2 separate regions of the Homo sapiens genome follow, and region 1 is linked to region 2. A link means that fine-mapping ties the variant in region 2 to the expression of a gene that starts in the linked region. Tissue or cell type: breast. Region 2 holds a variant in brackets; the other region holds the start of a gene. All regions are shown on one strand. Distances are from middle to middle.

The links. PIP is the estimated chance that this variant, and not a neighbour inherited with it, causes the effect.
Region 1: ASTL starts here. The variant in region 2 is fine-mapped to the expression of ASTL in breast (GTEx, PIP 0.97).

The regions. Positions count from the first base shown.
Region 1 is chr2:96,137,409-96,140,093 of GRCh38, reverse strand. ASTL (astacin like metalloendopeptidase) reads left to right here and starts at 1,592. Exons shown (of 9, transcript NM_001002036.4): 1 at 1,592-1,712; 2 at 2,394-2,519. The coding sequence starts at 1,658. RefSeq lists a silencer at 688-777 and an enhancer at 1,668-1,737.
Region 2 is chr2:96,080,981-96,083,665 of GRCh38, reverse strand. No RefSeq gene overlaps it. Among named protein-coding and RNA genes, the nearest start is that of ADRA2B, 34 kb to the left of the region's middle. The variant T/C (reference allele first, on the strand shown) is at 1,360.

The DNA.
Region 1 (2,685 bases), 56 kb before region 2:
TTTTTTTTGAGATGGAGTCTCACTCTGTCCCCCGGGCTAGAGTGCAGTGGCGCGATTTTGGCTCATTGCAAACTCCACCTCTGGGTTCAAGTGATTCACCTGCCTCAGCCTCCCGAGTAGGTGGGATTACAGGTGCCCGCCACCGTGCCCAGCTAATTTTTGTATTCTTTTAGTAGAGATGGGGTTTCACCATGGTGGCCAGTCTGGTCTTGAATTCCTGACCTCGTGATCCACCTGCCTTGGCCTCCCAAAGTGCTGGGATTATAGGCGTGAGCCACCGCGCCCTCCTGAACACTCATCTTAAGTGGTCAGCCTTGTGCATTTGTTTTTTGATGGGTCCTATTCTTTATTTTACTTATTTTTTCTAGGTTTACTGAGGCATAATCGACAAATAAAAGTAGTATATGTTTAAGTATACAACGTGATGTTTTGACATATGCATACCTTGTGAAATGATGACCACAACAAGCTAACTAGCATATCCATGGTGTGTATCCTGACATCTGTCAATACCCTGCCCTGGCAGCAGGGCGTCTGCCTCCATCATGGTCTCCCTGTGATTCTGATTCCTATCTTTGGAGAAGCTCTGGATTCCAGGCACAGTGGGAATGCTGAAAGGTCCTTGTGGACAATAGCTATTCTTCTTGGCTCTGTCGCTTCCCTTCACTGGGTGCAGGTGACTGTGGGGGTGTCCCCAAATGCTGCCCAGCGCTGACATGCTCCGCCTCTGGGATTTCAATCCAGGTGGGGCCCTGAGTGACCTGGCTCTGGGGCTCAGGGGTATGGAGGAGGGGGGATATAGGTAAGGAGTTTAAATTTCCAAATCTGTGAAATGGGAATAAATACTGACTGATCATGCCAGCTGCTGTGGGATTAGGGGGTGGACTCCCTGCGAGGCTCTGGGCATCTGGGGGTTCCACCTTTCCCACATGGCAGGCTTTCTAGGGTGCTGCACACTGTTCAGTTTGTGAAATTTCCTGGAGCCCTGTGCTTGTGATAGTGAACTTTTCTATATGTGTACTAAAATAAAAGCTTGTGAAAGTGCAGTGACCTTTTCCTCCTTCCGGAGATACACGGGGGGCGCCCCAGGGTCTCAGGCAGCTTTCCCCATGTCTAAGCACAGGCCGGGGTAGGAAAGGGGGTCTCCCTCGCTGGAGGAATAGGTCTATACCTGGGCTGGGGCCTCAGCTAGGCCTGGAGCAACTTTCTGCGATGTTTCTCTGCCCCCTGGAGGCAGGAAGGAACCTCAGAAGAGCCACACTCCCAAGCGGGCCCCTCCTGTCTTTCACCTGCTACAGCCAGGAAGGGGACTGGGCTGGGGTGGGAACCACAGGTAGGCATCGGAGGGGCTGCCAGTAGACCTGGTTTGGGTGGCGCTGCCGGTAGAGCTGGTTGGGGCGGGGCTGCAGGTGGAGCTGGTTGGGGCGGGGCTGCAGGTGGAGGTGGTTGGGGCGGGGCTGCAGGTGGAGATGGTTGGGGCGGGGCTGCAGGTGGAGGTGGTTGGGGCGGGGCTGCAGGTGGAGGCGGTTGAGGGGAGCAAGGTGGGAGGTGGAGCAGCTGCTATTTAAGAGGGGGTGGTGGTGCCGGTTCTGCAATTAGGTTACTGTGTCTTGCTGGGGCTTGGTCTTGTTTGCTGAAGGGGCAGCAGGGCTCTACCATGGAGGGTGTAGGGGGTCTCTGGCCTTGGGTGCTGGGTCTGCTCTCCTTGCCAGGTAAGCTGGCTGCCTGTCCCTCCTGCTGCTGGCTCCAGCCTGGAGAAAGCTGGGGAGAGGCTAGAAGGTTGTGGCTGGAGCCTGCAGGGATTGTAGCTGAGCTCAGTAGCTCAGAGCACAGAGCTCTCCAGGGTTATTCTAGAAGTCAGCTCCTGGGGGGCCAAGGGGAGGCCTCCTGAAGGCCCTGGAAGCAGAGGGCCTGCCTGGCAGAAGATAAGTGTTGTGCCCCAGGCCTACTTGTCTTGGGGTGGGGGTAGGCTGTAAGTCCCCACTCCAGCCTGGTCAGGCAGGGAGTCATCCAGGCTGAGCCCATTGTCCAAGAGCCTGGGCTGAGAGAGAGTCATAAGGTGGGGTCTGAGGCTGGCCCTGCCCGTCACGGGCGTCAGAACCCGAGGTCTGTCCTGCCTCCTTCCTTCCTGCCCCTCCTCTACCTCATAGGTGGGGCACATGGTCCCTTTTGGTCCCCCTAAGGGAGCTCCTTCCCTGAGGTCATCTAGACCTTGGCACCAGTTGGGGTTGAGCAGGGAGGCTGGGAAGGCTCCTTGGCTTTGTGCTGGAGCCTACTCTTCCTAGGGACTGAGTCTTACCGTCTGATCCCCCACACCCACCCCATGTCCTGCTGTCTGGTCTCACCGGTGGGTGCTCCAGGCATCTGTGTATGCCCCTGTCTGTCTGGACCAGGTGTGATCCTAGGAGCGCCCCTGGCCTCCAGCTGCGCAGGAGCCTGTGGTACCAGCTTCCCAGATGGCCTCACCCCTGAGGGAACCCAGGCCTCCGGGGACAAGGACATTCCTGCAATTAACCAAGGTGAGGGCACTACATCTTCTCACGGCCTGGAGGGGCACGACGTTATGTAGTGTGAAAACCACACCGAACACTCAGAAATGCAGAGCCTGGGAGGAAATGGACCAGCTTACTCTGGGCTCTAAGTGGTTTTTAAGAGATGGAGTGGTGTTGCTATATTGCCCCGGCT
Region 2 (2,685 bases):
CTCCTGGGGTAGGGCAGGGCCTGGGAGGGCTTGGCAGACGTGGCCTTCTGCATGCCTCTCTGCTGAGGTTGGGGCACGAGGCTAGGCCAGCCAGAATTTTTGGGCCACCTCTGGCTGAGCACAGAAGGCAGCTGTCCCCAGTGGAGGGGTGGGGGCCTTGGCCCTTGGAAGCAGGTCATGGGATGTGGATGCTTAGATATGTGCGGACGTGAGCAGCTCTGCAGTCCTTGGCCCCTGGCTGGCCAGCCCCGGCGCCAGGCCTGACTTCCCCTCCTCCTGACACTGCCAGGCTGGAGGCCAGTGGCTGACCGAGCAGGCTCTGCCTTGGGCTGAGCTGGAGTAGGGAGGGTCTGCAGGACTAAGGAAAAGTCCACTGCTAAAGCTATGGCAGCCTCCATCTCATCAGCCTCCTAATTAAAGTGACACTGCACAGTGCCTGCCAAATTCATTGGATGTTGACCCCAGGATGTGGTGGCCCTCCCAGGACTAGGGGAAGAGGCAGGTGGGCTTCCTGGCCACCTAAGGCAGCCTGAGAGCTGCCCATGAGTGGGGTGGGAGGGAGGGCAGCTGTGTAAGCTACACTGGGCTCGGAGAGACAGGAGATGTGAGTCCCTGTCCCTGCCTGTTCCTTATAAGTGGTGTGGTCTTGGGCAAGCAGCTTCCCTCCTCTCTAAGGAAGTTATGAGGTCAGTTACACTCTTGGGAGTGGAGAAGCTTCCTTTGTAAACTGTGAAGTGCTGCCAGAATGGGAGGTGGAGAGGAGAGCTGGCCTTCCAATCGATGACCTGATGACCTCAGCTGGCCAAGCAAAGAGGTCCTGGGGGACAGGCAGGTGTCTTGGCCCTCTCTCCATTTTGTCCCCTTGCAGACTAGCCGTGGGCTGGGGTAAGTATGAGTCCAAGACTGGACCCCGGCCTGGCCAGGACACAGGCTTGGAGCCTTGCATTTTGCAGGCTGGAAGGACATCCTTGAGAGAAGAGCTATTACCAAGGCGGGATGGATCTGATAGCTTTGTGAAGTGATCAGCAAAGAGTGAGCACCCAGGCTGTCCAAACCTCAGGCCTTGGAAGAAGTGTGGCACTCGCAGGACTGCCTGCTCATGGCAAGGCACCAAGGTACGACCTTGTGTGGGTCACGGGAGCCGCACAAGCCAATACTCTTACCTTTTGCCTGGAAAGGCCTGGAGATGCAGGCCCACCTGGGCCACCTGAGTTACGCACAAGTGTGTTAGTTCAGCACCTCCTCCCCTGCAGATAGACCTCTTGCCCAGGATCACAGGGATGGTCAGTAATAGCCCGAGCCAGGACTCCAGGGCTTAGGGCCTGGGCAGCTGCCGGAGGTGGGGGGTTGTCTACCTTG[T/C]GGCCCCTCCCAGAAAACATGCTTGTAATTTGGAACTCTGGTTGTGCAGCCGCCCCGTTGGCAGCTTGAGAGGAGCACGTGTTGGTGAGAAGGAACATGGCATCCTCTGCCTTGCTCTGGTCTGGCCTCTCATCCTGCGATGCAGGGGCTCCATCCACAACTCTCTGTGAAGAAGAAATACAGACTTTCTCAGACAAACGAAAATTGAGGAAATTTATTGTCAGTACACGTGCCTTGTAAGAAATATTGAAAGTTCTTCAAAGAAAAAGAAAAACATGTAAGTCAGAAACTTGGATCTATATAAAGAAAGAGAGCACTGAAGAAGGAATGAGGGAGGATAAAATAGAAAGTGTTTTTTTTTTATTCTGAATTGATCTAACAGGTAACAGTTTGTTCAAAATAATAATAGCAACAATATATTCAATTATTTAATCGTATATGTATATTATACACATAGAAACATATACTTAAGTATGCTTATGTATGAGTAAAATAAATGAGAGCAGACATAAGAGGCAGGAGGCAGGAATTGGGATTATTTTGTTATTATAAGATACTTGGTACAACCCATGAAGTAGTATTTGGTATTTGAAGATGGATTTGCATTAGTTGTAGACGTATACTGCAAATCTAGGGAAAATACTGAAACAAGTGAAAAAAATAAGAAGAAAAGTATTTTTTTTAAAAAGGAAGTTGTCTTAGTGCGCTTGGGCTGCTATAACAAAATACCTCAGACTGCATAATTTATAAATAATACAAATTTATTTTTCATAGTTCTGGAGGCTGGGAAGTCTAAGATCAAGGGAAGAGCAGATTTGGTGTCTGATAAGGGCTCACTCTCTGCTTCCAAGGTGGTACCTTCCTGCTGTGTCCTTGCGTGGTGGAAAAGATGAATAGCCCCCTCTCACCTATTTTGTTAAAGCACTAATCCATTATTGAGGGCTCCACCCTCATGACTTAATCACCTCCTAAGGGCCTCATTTCTTATCATATTGGTGGTTACATTTCAACATATGAATTTTGGGGGAACATATTCAGACCATAGCAGAAATATGCTGACTATTTATTTTTTGGTCATATAAAATGCTCAATTAAAAACCACAAAAGGCAGAAAAAGAGTGGGAGGAAAAATAGAGGAACAAATAACAAGGCAACAAATAGAAAAACAGTAACGGGTATGGTAGATATTAATCTATGTCAATAATAATTTTGAATGCCAATGGTGTAAATATACTAAGACAGAGATTCTGCAAAGCAAAAGAAACTATCAACAGGGTAAACAGACAACCCATAGAATGAAAGAAAATGTTTACAGCCTATGCATCT